2 separate regions of the Homo sapiens genome follow, and region 1 is linked to region 2. A link means that fine-mapping ties the variant in region 2 to the expression of a gene that starts in the linked region. Tissue or cell type: whole blood. Region 2 holds a variant in brackets; the other region holds the start of a gene. All regions are shown on one strand. Distances are from middle to middle. Region 1 holds the start of PID1 (phosphotyrosine interaction domain containing 1). Region 2 overlaps DNER (delta/notch like EGF repeat containing).

The links. PIP is the estimated chance that this variant, and not a neighbour inherited with it, causes the effect.
Region 1: it holds the start of PID1, and the variant in region 2 is fine-mapped to the expression of PID1 in whole blood (INTERVAL, PIP above 0.99).

What each region holds. Positions count from the first base shown.
Region 1 is chr2:229,268,011-229,276,348 of GRCh38, reverse strand. PID1 (phosphotyrosine interaction domain containing 1) reads left to right here and starts at 5,062. Exons shown (of 3, transcript NM_001100818.2): 1 at 5,062-5,335. The coding sequence starts at 5,306.
Region 2 is chr2:229,352,215-229,360,552 of GRCh38, reverse strand. It overlaps DNER (delta/notch like EGF repeat containing), which reads left to right. Exons shown (of 13, transcript NM_139072.4): 13 at 1,902-2,924. The coding sequence ends at 2,013. Among named protein-coding and RNA genes, the nearest start is that of PID1, 85 kb to the right of the region's middle. The variant C/G (reference allele first, on the strand shown) is at 4,215.

The DNA of each region.
Region 1 (8,338 bases), 84 kb after region 2:
TTTTCAGAGGGACTTACTAGAAAATTTAACAGATGGGACTTGGATACAGGGCCCACACAATCTGAGACTAGGATGGAGGTGTGTATGAGGGAATTGTGAGAGCAGAAATAAAACCAAAAGAGGAAATAAGTTTTTATGTTAGACTATTAGGCTTCATTTTACTGCTAACCCTGATCAATTGGTTGTTAGGAAATGTTGAGAAGGGTGTGTTTAGCGGGAAAGACAGACACTTATTAGTGATGTTTTCTCTATCAGTTTTCTATTATTACCTAACAAACCACCCAAAACTTAAGGGATAAAACCCAACCTTGTTATGTACTCATGATTCTGTGGGTCAGCAGTTGGCAGGTCTCAGCTGGGTGGTTCTTCCACTGGTGGGACCCACATGGGATCACCCATGTGGCTGCTGTCGTGTAGTGGCTTGAGCTGGGTGTTATGAGATGACCTTACTCACATATCTGGCTGTGGGTGCTAACTCATGGTCTGACCTCCCTCTGTGTTGTTCTCATCTTGAGGAGTCTAGTCCAGGCTCCTTCATAGGATGACTTATGTTCCAAAAGGGTGAGAGCAGAAGCTGCAAAGTGTTTTGTGGCCCAAGCTCAGAAGTTCCACAGTGTCACATCTGCTGCATTTTATTGGTCAAGTATGCCACAAGTCCAGCACAGATTCAAGGAATGTGGACAGATTGCATCTCATGATGAGAGAAGCAGGCAAGTTACAGTGCAAATGGGCATGACTTCCTTGGGGAGGGGAGATTTTTGTGGGCATTTCTGAAAATAATCTATCAGGTGTCTAAGGTTTGTGAGGATATGAGGAGTCAAGAGTAGGAGAGTCACAACACACGAATGAGCCAGTCCTACCCTGTTAAGCGTCATCTTAACATCCCAATACATTCCTATCACTCTGTAGGGACGAAAGCCAGTGGTTCTGTCACTACTGGGAGGTTTAAATGGTCGAATGAATTTTCAGACTTTTTTATATTGCTCATTTATATACAGCTGTTTTGGTGATTTTGAAATAAGGTTAGTGATACCATAACAAGGGCTTTTTAATGATAATTCTGCTAAATACACAACCATAATAAATTTTGCTGTCATCTGCTTAAGTTAGAATTGTAAGTGGGCCAGGTATGGTGGCTCATGCCTGTAATCCTAGCGTTCTGGGAGGCCAAGGCAAGTGAATTACTTTAGCCCAGGGAGCCTGGGAAACACAGCAATACTCTATCTCCATAAATTTTTTTTTTAATTAGCTGGGTGTGGTGGCACAAACCTGTAGTCCCAGCTATTCAGGAGGCTGAGGTGGAAGGATTGCTTTGAGTCTGGGAGGTTGAGGTTGCAGTGAGCCGAGATCGCGCCACTGCACTCCAGCCTGGGCGATAGCGTGAGATCCCATCTCAAAAAAGAAAAAAGAATCGTAAGTGAGCTTGAATATCCTTTGTCATTTTTATTTGAGAATCTAAAGCAAATAATTGAAACCCACAAATATTCCAAATGGAAATAGTGTAACCACAAGAAGCATGGGCCGCTTTGTGAGAATTGGATCATTCCAATAATAAAAAGAGAAAGAAACATAATGGGGATGAAAACGAATGTTTCCCACACACCTACCATGTGTCAGGCATGCTGCACATATTAATTCATTCACTCCTCCCCAAAATCCTAAGTATTAAGTAATATTATCACCCATTTTATAGAAGAGAAATCTGAGGTTCAGCAAGGCAAATGACTTGTGAAAAGCTGATACCTAGGTAGACAGTTCGAAGGCTGGGATTCAACCTGAGTCTTCTGCTTGTCCTAGCTCCTTTCCAACATTTACTGAGATTGATAAATATTTTATACATATATTCAAATTATATACATTTTATCCTACTTTAAAAACCATAATTGTATCATTTTCAGCTGCAACACAACTTTATAATTATCCTTTTAAATGCTGCATAATATTTTAATATTTCTTTGATATGCTGGACCATACTTTCATTCACCATTACTCTGACTTGGACATTGAGGTTGCTTATGCTAGGGCTCAGAACCATGAACTAGATCAAATCTGGCTTAACACAATTTCTAGGGATGCTGTAATTATTTTTCTGAACCAAATGTGTGAATAACGCATCTGTGCCTTGTCAAGCTTTTTTGATTTCTGTCATTTGCCTTCAAATGGTATTTATTGACAAGATTAGACCTGTTTCGGTAATTGCAGGAGACTAAGTACATGAAATTAGGCACACATTTACATGCCTAATATTTCTACTCATTGCACCAAAACACCTTCTGCTCATTTTAAGGGTGGTTTCTTGCTCAGAACAAACCTGTTTACATCGTAAGGCAGCATTTTCAGATTCACCAGGAAGGATGAGGTTCCAATGTCACAGAACAGAGCTGGGAGACATTGGCATGCAGGTCTCATCTCTAGCCAGCAGATGTCTCTATTTCATTCACCCTTCATTGCAGGCTCCTCCTGAATGGGAAGACTTGGGAGCAAAATCTATGAGTGGGAGGTTGTCCCATCCTTTTGTCACCTCCCACAAGCCTGCAATTGCCCCTCCTCCACCCCCTCCCCTAGCTTCCTGATTCGTGGCATAAAGGTAATTGAAACAGGAGTGCCATTTGAGTTTAAATACATTCTTTACTTTACCAAATCTGTTTGCAAAGTGGGAACGGTAACTGAAAGCAATCTTTACAGAGCCAAAGCTTTTTCTCTTTAAATAGCACCATACTCCGTACTAAAAGCTGTATTACTGAGTCATAACAATTAATTACGTTTGGAGGTGAGAAGACAGGATTTAACGCTCTAATGCGATTTGAATTTAGGCCGTTAACTCATTCCACTGCTATTTAAAACAAAATCACTTTTCCACGGAAGCATCTGCAAGCAAGGATGGTTTCAGAGCTTAAGTCTGAAGACATCCCTGGCAACTGAATATTCCTGTTTTAGCTTCCTGGGGGGGTTGGGGGGTGGGGTTTATATGCATGTCTGGATTTTCTAGATTTTTGTAATGAATTGCATTTCTTTCTACTTTGGGATTTGATAAAAGAGAACTGGGGGCTGGGAAGGTCATAAGGAATTTTGTAGGTGTGGAGGTGTGCAGGAGGAGTTACCGGAAAAGCAAACAGAGACCATATCACCAAGCATGTGAGGCACATGTCTGTGCGGGCTGACAGGCAAACACCTCATGAAAAGAGATTTATTAATAAGTTCAGAACAAGTAGCAGGAACTGGAGAAGGAGCTGAGAAGGTTCAGGTGGTTATCAGGCAGGAGTGGGAGGGTCCTGTGGATATCCAGGGAGACAGAGACAAGCTCTTCAGAGGCAGCTCTGTGGCTTTGCCAGAGGCTCCTAGAGGCACTGAGGGTCCTGGGCTTGCCAAGGCTGGTGGCACCAACATAGCAACCGCAGGGTCCAGAAGGATCTGCCTGGAATCCTGGATCTGAATCGCCATTGTAACTCCCCACAGTGTGACTCTGTGAACCCTGTGCTCCCCAAGCCTTGGGAGATAGGGGCTTCTGTCCCACGGAGAGTTGCTGCGAGGGTCCGATGAGCTGAGGGTTAGATTCTGGAGTGGTTCCATATCTGGAAATCATTGTAGTCATGCAGAACAAGGAAAATGGACAGATCCTCCTTCCAGACATGGAGTGTGGATTTTGACATTGCATGAGTAGCTCACGGCCCAAGCTGTGCAGCTGTCTCAGTATGAAATGCCTCTCTTTCACACCCCTCTGCTCTCAGGACCCTGCCTTGTAGGAGCCTAGGGCTCCCCACAAACATTGTGTTCTCTCTGCTCCTCTCTTTGGTCATTCTATGTCCTGAGTTCTTCCCACCATGTTCTCCTCTCCCACTCTTCATCAGCTCGAGAATCAGCTTAGTATCCCTGACTTGCCAAGTGCCTTTAACCCCCAGCCCTAGACGGATGCTCTTTCCACTGGGTTTCCATGGTCAGTTAGAGGCGCAGGGCCACATCTCCTGCCCTGAAGTCATCTGACTGTGCACTCTCTAAGCCACTCACTGGCTGTGTGACCTGGACAAGTGACCTAAACCTTATAAGCCTCATTTGTTTGATCCACATGGTGAAAATATTAATAGTTATTTTGCCGAGTTGTCAAGAGAATGGGAAGGGCTGGCCTGTTTAGGACAGGAAGTCATCTCATGGTGGCCGGCACTAGCCGGGGAGCCTCCAGGCCTGCGAGCCCAGAGCGGCTTTCCCTTGGGTTCTGAGAGCCTCCTGCTGCACCTGGCAGATCTCAGGATGAGTTAGTGATTCGGGAGTCTGCATGGCCCTCCTCACCCCTGTATAGGTTAGGAGTCGAGTCCTCTCCCCATCATGAAGCATGGCCTCTTCGTGGCCAATCCCTCTCATCTCTCAGGTCTTACTCCAGGCATTCCCCAGGGCCCTTGTCTAAGAAGCTCTCCTCTCCCCTTCTTCCCACATCTGCCCTGTTTTATCACCACCCGATATAGCACCGGCTTGTTGATGTGTTTGCTCAGTCACGACTCTCTCTCCAAAGCAGAAGGTAAGCTCCAGAGAGAAGGAACATTCTCTTGTCTTCTATTCTGCGTCGCTGCATCCTCAGAACCCAGCATAGGGGCTGGAGCCTAATAGATGCTCAGTTAACTGGAGTGGGAAGAATGAATGGAAGTGTCTCCCTAGCACAGCGCCAGGCACAGCACAGGCACTTCAGAGATGCCTGTTATATGGAAACCCGGGACCCCCGGGGCTACGGTTTCCTTATTTTAGGAATTTCCCCCACCCCCGCCACCCCCGACATCCCCGCTGCCCCCACCACCCCCGGCTCCAGGCCCTTCCCCCCTCAGCCAGTCTGTCCCTTTTCCCAGACCCCAACCCAATGGGGGCTTCCTGCAGGGAAGGGCCGGCTGTTCTAGCCTCCCCATTCACCCCTCACTAGGATTTAGAGTCGGCCGCGCTGCACTCCCGCCCCGCGCGGCCCCTGGGCGCCCGCCCCGGGCATGCTCAGAGCGCGCAGGTCCGGGCGGCGGCGGCGGGGGAGGAGGGAGCGGCCGCCCCCGCCGCCGCCGCGCGCTCGCCGGGCCCGGGCGGAGCTGCGCAGTCCTCTCGCAGCTGCGCCAGGACAGCCGGCGCGCGGCCGTGCCCACAAGTTGCCGGCAGCTGAGCGCCGCGCCTCCTCCTGCTCGCAGCCCCCTACGCCCACCCGGCGGCGGTGGCCAGCGCCAGGACGCACATCCCGCGGACACCGACCCCAGATGTAAAGCGGGACCCCAGCCCCTCGCCCCCCGGCGCGATCGACAGTCTCGCCAGCGTCTCCTCTGCCAAAACCCAGGGCTGGAAGATGTGGCAGCCGGCCACGGAGCGCCTGCAGGTAAGGGGCACCCGGGAGCCGGGGGCCAGCCTGGAGGAGGAGGTGCCCGGGCAGAGGAACCTAGTTTTTGCTTCTGCCTACTTTAGGGGATTTGCCCAAAACCATCTTGTAAGACGCATCGATGGCAACATGATGCTGTCGGTTTACCCAGCGCCAGGAACCCGGCAGGGGTATGGGGATGATGAAATTGATAAACGCACGGGTTCAGGCGTTACAACTTTTGGCTTGGAGGTGCTTGTGTGCGTGTTGGTTGGTACATATAAGGTTGGACTTTCTGACTGGCAATTTAGATTGCATTCCACTGACACAATGCAGTGGTCTGGGGTTAGGATTTTTGAAGCCAGATTTTTTTTTTTTTTTTTTTTTTTTTGTGGTCACCAGGAAAGACAGAACAAGTGATATGTGAAAGCATCCATTTGCCAATATAATGTGGAAATATCAAGCTTGGTTTGGCTTGGTCATGGTATGCTACTTATTTTATTTTTCCCTATTCATTGGTTCTCTCCCTTTATCTTCCTTAAACCCAAGCTCCTTCAGATATTTAAGAATCAAAAGTAGGTTCAGCCAGGAATATTTATGTCCTGGGTTATCCCATCAAAAGTTTTTTACTGCTGTCTCCTGAAATGCCAGACTGCCTTGAATTGGATTCTGGAAGCTGGGGATTTGCGGGAGGCGATTGAAGAGAAAGAGGGACCTTTCCCAGAAGAACTCCTTCAGTGACACGTTGGGCCTTGGGATTGCCCTGGTTGCAAGGTTTGAGGACTGCCTTTTGCTGGCAAATATTGTCAAGAGTCACGGCAGCTACTCTGCCAGATAAAATCCACTGAATCCTGCAGTTAAACTTTTGGCAAGCTAGGAGCCACATTGTTTCGTAGTAAACTTTGAAGACGTGTTTAACTGGTAAAATACAGCACCATTGGAGGCTGAGTGCATCTGAAGACTTAGGACAATGAGGCCAGGCCCTGGCTAGGTTGGAGGCTTCTCAATGAACATTTACAGCCCCAAGCACAGTTTCTCAGATGCAGGGAGAGGCTAACCTTTGTCTAGGAGTCCTCATACAGAGGAACAACCCGCAGAGGGCATTGCATTTAGCAGAAACAGATGCCCCACAGCTCCTTTCCAAAGCTCCCTGGGCCATGATTTGCGGGGAGTGTGTTCAATTTATCAGAGCCTGAGACACCAGACCAGTTCCCCAGGGTCTCAAGTAGAATAAACAAGAAAACCTGCATTTAGCCTTGCAGATGAGGAGGTGGATGACCAACCTCCTAACCCCCTCCTTGTCTTACTAAGAGAATATCAGCACTGGGCTCTGAATGACTGATAGAAGGTGATGTAAATATATTTTGGCAGTGGCACCAGATACCAGTGGCGCATTTGAAGTTCTCCTTCGGTTAAAGGCGTAACTTCTATTCCAAAGGAGCAGAATGATTGAGGGGAGCTGGCAGGTTTCCTGTTCAAGTGCAGAGGGTAGCTTTTGGAAGTCCTTAGAGAGATGTGACCAAAATTCCTTGAGGTGGCTTTTATGGCCTGATGATCTGTACCTCTGAAGAGTTTGTAGATTTTTGACTATTCAAGTTCTTCCTACCGGCCTGTTTCACTTAGGGAATCCTGTGCGCTCTGGAGCATGTGACCCTTGGCAGGTGGGCGCTCTCGCTTGCCTTCCCATAGAGATTGCTCCTCACTAGAAATGTCTCCCCCTTATTTTGTGAAATGTGCACGTGTGCATTTTGGCGTGAGCCTGGTTTATTGCAGTTGGTGTTTGCAATGCGTTTATTTTATTTCAAGGTGTCATGTTGAAAGAACCTGTTTTTAGGCTTTTGAAAGCTCATATAAACAGGGCTTATCACCAATAAGACCGAGTCACTGTTGGAAGGTCCTTACCAACAGGGGGCTCAACTTCATGCTGCCCAAATTTCGATGAGTCTCTTTTGAAAGTACATACATCTCAAGCCTTGAGATTAGAGAAGTGAGACAAATGCGGAAAAATTTTTTTATATCCGTGGCTTCTTCCCAAAGAGTATTGCTTGACTCTCCTTGAAAACACATAATTTATATGTTTTTACTTTTGCCTCTGAGAGAGCTGTTGAGGATGAGATGGTGAGTGAGCTGCTTATCATATTTTATTTACATTCCTTGTGGTTATCTTTGTCACAATCTCTGTTTGCTGTCTGGGGTTTTTTCCTTTTCTTTTCCTTTCACCGTGATATAGAAACATGCCTGTCCGATTCCTCAGTGAGAAGCCACTTTGCCACTCCCAGGCTCTGTGGCCACAGAGATAGCAGTGGATATCATGCTGGATAGGAAACTTGAGAATGAGTTCTGCTCTTTAATGATGTCTGAGCTCCATGTGCCTTTCACAAATCTTTATAAACCTTCTCATTCGACCTCATTAATTTTTTTCTCATTTATCTTTAATACAAACATTCTAATTTAGATGAGCCAGAGTGAAGAAAATTCGTCAAGGAAACATTCCCAGAACTTCCTAATAGGACTAAGGAGTCAATTTATTTTATCAATACCTAGAATCAAAAGAGGGGATGGAAGAAAATAACCAGACCCTTTCTTGATGATATAGTTCATATTCGATGAAGCTGGTTTGAGAAGTCTGTGTCCCAGGGGAGTGTGATAGATCTTTGCGTAGAACAGTCACCCTCTAAATAATGGACTTTTGAGTGTAGCAACTGGCTCCGTTGCTCAGGAAATGGCATCTTTGATCAGGTTTGATTATCATTATTGTTACCCACACTTCTGTGTCCCCACAAAATGATGCTGATATTTTCTGATTTGAGGTTTAGCTGTTTGACCCAAATCCAGCACAGGCAAAGGGACCTATTGCCCTGAGCAGAGCTGCGCTGGGTAATTTCTCATTCAGTCACACAAACCGAGGCAAGTTCATCTGCTCCCTTGAATGTTAAAACTTCTATTGCATCCCACTCGAGCCCTCGCTGGGAGCTTCTGCCATTAAAAATATAATAGGATCAAAAGGGATGTGAAGATTTAATT
Region 2 (8,338 bases):
TAGTCCCAGCTACTCGGGAAGCTGAGGCAGGAGAATGGCACGAACATAGGAGGTGGAGCTTGCCGCGTGAGCCGAGACCACGCCACTGCACTCCAGCCTGGGCAACAGTGCGAGACTCTGTCTCAAAAATAAAAAATAAAAAAAAGGATGTTTTAAAGATATATACAATTGGGTTTTTCCTTTCAGCCAACCAATCGAATAATTAGTTAGTTAATATAATTTGTTGGCCCTCAAGTCAAAGCTCTCTATATCCTACTATGTTAGATATGGAGAGCTCTTCACTGGGTTGCTGGATATTTTTGGTTAAATTATTATTAGTGGTGGTGTATCTAGGTATTTTATGAGAAATAAATTGTCAAAATGTTTGCATCTTAAAGCAGCCTAGGAAATTGTCAGACTTGGGAGAAAGTGTAAGACCCAACAGGCCTGTTGACACTTTTACTCTGTTGACACTTTTCCTATCCTTAGATTATGCAGGCCTCACTCAATTTAGGTGAACAAACTGCAGGCTAGAGCCTGACCCACATCTATGTGAGCACAATGGTGGACCTTCAGTGAGGCTTCACATTTTAGAAAGTATTTATTGAAGTCTTTTGTCATATTGCAGTAATAGCTGTGGGTTTTTCTGAGGGTAGAATGCTTTAACTCTTTAACCCCGTGTTTTGCCTGGTGCCTGTCTGGCATAGCATATGCCTTTGTGCTCTTCAAGGCCAGTAAAATTTGAGAGGATTGGAATACAAGATTGATGACTGTTTAAAATGAAAGATCACATGAAGAACGCACTGTTTTCTCATTTCCCGCTTGATTCTACTTCCCATCTCCATACATGAGAAGACAGACTTTCAACATATCAAAGGAAAAAATAGGAAAAGAGGAGAGTTGGGACAGGAGCCATGGCAAATAAGCCCCTTTAATTCCTAGGGACCCCATCCTAGGAACCTTGTAAAATTTAAGGTTCTTTTAAAATGTCTTTTTAAAGAGCCCTGGTGGAATTGAAACAATTAAAAAATGTTGTCCAGACAAAGGAGGAGGGAGGATGGGTTAGTGTGGAAGATCGTTTGAATCCTGTTGCACTCCAGGGCTTGTAGGGAAGGTGAGGTCTTGAATGGGAAGAGACCACCCAGAAGTTGAATTGGCTTTATTTTAATAATTGCCACCTTACGACAGGTTTGACAGGAAGTCCTGAAATTGGATTTTGACTCCCTTGGCTTCTGAGAGGCAGTCCTGCTGTCGAGGCAATTTTGATACATACAAATCTGTTGGGACAATGGCTTTGTGCTCTGAGGAAAACATTGGCTTCTGTGTCCATAAGGTTGGGAGGTGATAGGTGGGTGGGATTCAATGGTGAGTTCTGGCATAGTTTGTGGACAGACACCTCTGTATCTGAAGTCATTTCCCACCTCTGCCCTTTTGTGTTGGGATCTCAGATGACCTTAAACCTTCACAGCTTATCCCCTGAAAATCCCACAGGAAAGGCTGTCTGTCCATGGCCCGGGGAAGACTGCCCTGGTGTTCTATATTCCAGGCACTGGAGTAGATATAAAATAAACTCACCTCTCCAAATATTTATGGGCCTCAGAAGAAAAAGACAAATCAATACACATTTTCTTAAAATCTATTGTGGAGCTGTCATGCTTGACTGCTTTGCCAAGATTTAACCTGCAAGCTCCAACTTTGAGCTCTACATTTTGTGAAATATGTTTTTTTGCCTCGAACACCAAAGACTAATGTTTATACACATTCAGTGTTAATATTAGGATGTCTAAAGTTTCTATGCTTGCTATAGAATATGTTTTTACAGTTTCATTTAATTCATGCATATAAATTATTCTCATCACTTGCTTTAATTAAACTTGAGATCTAGTATTTATCTAACCAGAGTCCTTTCTCTCTGATTTCAGGTTTGGAAAGAAATCCCGGCCTGCAATGTATGATGTGAGCCCCATCGCCTATGAAGATTACAGTCCTGATGACAAACCCTTGGTCACACTGATTAAAACTAAAGATTTGTAATCTTTTTTTGGATTATTTTTCAAAAAGATGAGATACTACACTCATTTAAATATTTTTAAGAAAATAAAAAGCTTAAGAAATTTAAAATGCTAGCTGCTCAAGAGTTTTCAGTAGAATATTTAAGAACTAATTTTCTGCAGCTTTTAGTTTGGAAAAAATATTTTAAAAACAAAATTTGTGAAACCTATAGACGATGTTTTAATGTACCTTCAGCTCTCTAAACTGTGTGCTTCTACTAGTGTGTGCTCTTTTCACTGTAGACACTATCACGAGACCCAGATTAATTTCTGTGGTTGTTACAGAATAAGTCTAATCAAGGAGAAGTTTCTGTTTGACGTTTGAGTGCCGGCTTTCTGAGTAGAGTTAGGAAAACCACGTAACGTAGCATATGATGTATAATAGAGTATACCCGTTACTTAAAAAGAAGTCTGAAATGTTCGTTTTGTGGAAAAGAAACTAGTTAAATTTACTATTCCTAACCCGAATGAAATTAGCCTTTGCCTTATTCTGTGCATGGGTAAGTAACTTATTTCTGCACTGTTTTGTTGAACTTTGTGGAAACATTCTTTCGAGTTTGTTTTTGTCATTTTCGTAACAGTCGTCGAACTAGGCCTCAAAAACATACGTAACGAAAAGGCCTAGCGAGGCAAATTCTGATTGATTTGAATCTATATTTTTCTTTAAAAAGTCAAGGGTTCTATATTGTGAGTAAATTAAATTTACATTTGAGTTGTTTGTTGCTAAGAGGTAGTAAATGTAAGAGAGTACTGGTTCCTTCAGTAGTGAGTATTTCTCATAGTGCAGCTTTATTTATCTCCAGGATGTTTTTGTGGCTGTATTTGATTGATATGTGCTTCTTCTGATTCTTGCTAATTTCCAACCATATTGAATAAATGTGATCAAGTCAAGGATGCAGTTGTCTCTTTTGTTCTTTGAAAACTATATATAAAAAGTTTTGGATGTGATATTGTTTGCCAAACAATCCCATGGTTGATACCATATTAAATAACCTGAGGAGTGCACCTCTGTGGCTGCCGGAGCCCCCTCCTTTGCCTCTGCAAGGCTTTCTGACCTCCTAATTGTCAGTAAGCTCACCCTAGCTGCTTGTCAGTGTGAAGTGTGGAAAAAAAATAAGAATTCTTATCTGAAGTTTTATATCCGAATTTGCCAGTGAAATGCAGCACAAGTGAACGGTGGGCACACTGGAATCCGGAGATGCTTCCAGGCATTGAGGGCAGGCACCTGTGGCCTCAAGAAATACCTTGCGTGCTGCTATCCTGTGGAGGCGCTGCTATCCTGTGGAGGCTAAATGAAATTGCCTTAGCAAATAGCTCCATGGTTCTTAGAAACTTGAAGGCCGTTTAGAGCCACCCTATATTCAGTTCCATTTTGTATCCAAATGCTGCTCTGAAGTCCCAGAGTTATTTTTAAAAATGCATTTTTAACTGTACACAGGAACGTCAGGTAAGGCCAAGAGGAGTCCTGGAACCAGGTGTGAGGGAGAGTTTTAAGCAAAAAGAATTATTTAAGGTTCTTTTCCTTCCCGCTCTACCCTCAAAACATCTGTTCCTAATCCTACAAATGACACAGCAGTACACCCACATTCTGATTATTAAATGATACAGTGCAATACATTAATATTTTCAGTTAAGTGGAAGTAAGGTAAGTACAAAATATTAACTTGGTTGGTTAAACAGTCATGGGAACATGCAGCAGAGTGTTGTGCAGACATACTTACTCCCATCTTCCTATAAAAGACCCTTTGGTTGTGTGTTGCTCAGACACTTCTTGATCGATGATAGGAGAGGGCCATGAAAAGGTGTGAGTTGTACTCCATTTGCCTCTTGACCCCCACGAGCACCTGGACATTGTCTGAGCCTCCGTGTCTTTTTTGCTTATTGGTCTTCATTTGCAAGCTGCTTCAATCACACCCTCTGAAATCATTTTCAATCTCCCAAAGTCTTAAATTCATTATATGCGATGTCTCTTAAAGGACTTGTTTAAAAAACTAAAGTCTTTTATCAATCACAGTTTGTCCCTTGAAAGCCAATTAATGGAGCTTGCAAATTCAGATCTTGGGCAGAGCCTTCTGACCATCTGAGAGTGGCCACCAAATATATCTAAAGACATTTGCTCATTCATTTGGACATTCAATGATAAGAATTCATCTCATCGAGCACTTATTCTTTGTCAGGCAGATG[C/G]TGACCGACAAGAGCCCTACCAGAGGATCCTGCCTCCCGAGCTTATAGCTTGTTTTGAACCAGACCTTCATCTAACAAACAAATAAATATAGAATTACACTTCATAGAGCACCATGAAGGAAAGGTAAACTCCACTATAGGGCAGCTTATTTGTAGCAGAGTAGATTAAAACCTTACTTCAATTGTTTACTTGGTAATGACTTTGGACAAGTAGCTCTCTGGGTCTAAGCTTCAAAATTTGAAAAATGGGGATCATGATAGGGCCTCCCTTGAAGAATCGTTGTGAGCATTGGATGCCAGACTGTGTGTGTATCACTTAGCCTCCCTCCAGCGCCCACCAAGATTCAGCACGTTAGCTATTGTTGTTGTTGCTGCTGTTCTTGTTTTACATTCAGACATGATCACAAAGTAGGATAGTACCCTCGCTTTTATGATTAATGATTGGGATCTGCAGTTAGTACATTGTGATATGTGTGAGGAATAGTCCTTCTAGAGCAGGGAGCACATTCTCTAAGGGTGTCAAAACTCCACCGTCTCAAGTTGTTACTTTGCACTAGCTGTGAAAATAGTACTTGATAAGCCAGAGTTAACTACTACTCCAGAATTCTTGAACTGATGGTGGTCTTATAACTCAGTGTAGCCATAATTAGTTCTCTAATATGTGAGTCTTCACAAGCCAAAGCAACTACATGTAATGACAGGGATCCCTGCCATCTAGAAATGGTACAGCAGTGTCTCCAGCTCATTCGGGAGTTTTTTTCAAAGCTTTTTACTCTTGCCACAAAATGACACATGCAGATAAGTTATTTCCAAGTGGTCTTAACCGTTGAGTTGGCCTCTTTGACCAAAGTCTCCACTTAGCACAGTGGGGCCTGGGCCTCCCACCCTGTCACTTAGTAACTCTGCCCTACTGGCTTCTGTTTCTTCATTTCATGAGGCTATAAATTTTTTGAACAATTTTGTCTGGCTGTGATTTTCTCCAAGAACTGAGAAGTGTCTGGGAGTCTGAACTGATCTTTTCTTCAAACAATGTTGTAAGTCCAGGTAAACAAAACCAAACAAAACTAACTTTTCAGGTATATGATAGTTTAAGTCATAGTTCTTTCTGTTAAAGTGTTTTGTAGTTTACTTATAGGGAAAACATTAACCATAGAAAAGAAACATATGTATGAAATCACCTTAAAATTATAAGTAACCACTCACAACAACCCTGGCAAATACCACTGGGTGCCTCCACCACAGCCGTTTCTCTGCCCTTCTTGTGATGCAACATAGAATTGAAAATGTCAGCTGTCACCTTCTCCAGCTTCCCTTGCTTTTAGGGGTGATTGTGGGTCAGTGTGGCTCAGTGGGCCCTTCAAGAAAATCTCCCGGGACCTCCTAAAAATACATTTCTTCCTGATTAGAGAGTGATGGAGTCAATGAAGAATCATCAGATGCTTTCAGGTAGGGGGAAGAAGAGTTCTCCTATGCTACAATAAAGAGCATAGACTTTGATATTATTCACACTATATCACAATTATCACAATTATTACACAATTGATCACAAGGGTTTGATGAACGCTGATGTGATTAGAATTAGTCCTTGACCTCAGTTTTTTCAGCTACAAAATGGAAATGGAAGTAGCCTATTTGAGCAGGTATCGATAAACTATGGCCCATAGGCCAACATATAGCCCAAAGCTTGTTTTTGCACAGCGCTTAAACTAAGAGTGATTGTGCATGTGTGTGTGAATTTTTCATACACTTTTTTTTGATGGATATAGAAGTTTTTATTTTATTTGTGTTTTCTGTATTTTTTTTTATGCTTTAAGTTTTAGGGTACATGTGCACAACGTGCAGATTTGTTACATATGTATACGTGTGCCATGTTGGTGTGCTGCACCCATTAACTCGTCATTTAGCATTAGGTATATCTCCTAATGCTATCCCTCCCCTCTCCCCCTACCCCACAACAGGCCCCGGTGTGTGACGTTCCCCTTCCTGTGTCCATGTGTTCTCATTGTTCAGTTCTCACCTATGAGTGAGAACATGCGGTGTTTGGTTTTTTGTCCTTGCGATAGTTTGCTGAGAATGATGGTTTCCAGCTTCATCCATGTCCCTACAAAGGACATGAACTCATCGTTTTTTATGGCTGCATAGTATTCCATGGCGTATATGTGCCACATTTTCTATTTTAGAACAGATTTTGATTTACAGGAAAGTTGTGAAGATATTACTAAAAGTTCCCATATACTCCATGTCTGGTTTTCCTCATAAACATTTTACATTAGTTGGGCACATTTGTCACAATTAATGAATTGATGCCTTACTATTGACTAAAATCCATACTTCATTCAGATTTCTTTACTTTTTACCTACTGTCTTTTTCTGGTTGTTCCAGGATCCTGTCTAGGACACCACATTACATTTGATCATCACGTCTCCGAGGCCACTCTTGGCTGCAATGATTTCTCAGACTTTCCTTGTTTTCATGACCTTGAGGAGGACTATGTATTTTCTAAGATGTTCCTCTATATAGATTTTTATGACGTTTGACCCATGATCAGACTGTAGTTACACGTTTTGGGGAGGACAACCACAGAGATAAAGTGCCATGTTCATCATGTCTTATCAAGGTTACATACTAACAACATGATTTATTACTGTGGATGCTGACCTTAATCACCTGGCTGAAGCATTGGTCAGGCTTCTCCACTGTAAAATTACCTTTTCCCTCTTCTCTCCAGACTGTACTCTCTGGAAGGAAGTCACTATGTGTAGCCCACACTTAGGGAGCGGGGAGTTATGCTTCTCCACTTCCTTAAGGATAAAGTATCTACTTCAATTATTTGGGATTCTGCATGAGAAATTTGTTTATTCTCCCACGTTTATTTATTCAATAACTTATTTATACTAGTATGGACTAACGGACATTTTTGTTATTGTTTGGAGTATAATTTAACACTTTTTTTTTTTTGCTCAAAATTTTCCATCTTTGGCCATTGAGAGCTTTTCTAGTCGGCACCTTTGACATACCTTCATCATTGTGTATCTCTGTGTGTGTGTACATGTGCCTGTGTGTGTGTATGTACCTGTGCCTGTGTGTGCGTGCATTTTAGCACTTTCTTGCTTTCTGGCAATACAGGATGCTCCAGGCTCATCTTGTGTGTTTCCTGCTTCAGACTTAGAATCAGCCATTTTTTTCCAGGGAGATTGGTTCCTTTCATTGCAGTGAGAGTGGTTTATAACAAATGAGCATTTGAAATTGATTTGACAATAGCCAACTGTCTTACTCCATTTGTGTGGCTATAACAAAATGCCTGAGGCCAGATAATTTATAAAGAACAGAAATGTATTTCTCACAGTGCCGGAGGCTAGAAGTCCAAAACCAAGATACCAGCAGGTTTGGTGTCTGGTGAGGACCTGGTGTCCACTTCTAAGATGATGCATTGTCGCCGCATCCTCTGGAGGGGAGAAACACTGTGTCCTCACATGGTGGAAGGGACAGGGGGTGAAAAGTGAGGAGTGAAAGTCCTCCTTCAAGCCCTTTCAGGTGGGCACCTAATCCCATTCATGAGGGCACAGCCCTCATGACTCAGTTCTAAAGGCCACACCTCTTAATAGTGTTGCATTGGGGGTTAAATTTTAACCTGAATTTTGGAAGCAACAAAGAAAGACATTCAAACCATACCATACACACTCACTTGGAAGCCCAATTAAGTGAAATATTTTCTACCCCACAGAGTTTTATTCTTCTCCTTAGTAGACTTGTATTACAAAAATAAATCGTATTCAATTATTGTTATATTTTGACTTCCATTAATAAAAAATGTGTGGAATGTTATCTCCTCTCATGTTATACAAGTATCTATATCATATGCTCAGTTTTATATCTTGGCCAGCACAAGACTAAAATGTTTAATATCTGGTCTTTTACAGACAAGGTTGGCTGACCTCTGCTTGAGAGCAACATTCTGTAGTGTAAGTGAGGTAACATACTTAAGGACCAGCATAGTGATGGCACATGGTAGGCATGTGGTATGGGGGAACACATGTCTCCATTCTCCCTTGAGAAGGCGAACTCTTTCAGGACGACTCTGTCTTATTCAGCTGTATAACTCTAGTGCTTGGCATGTTGGTTG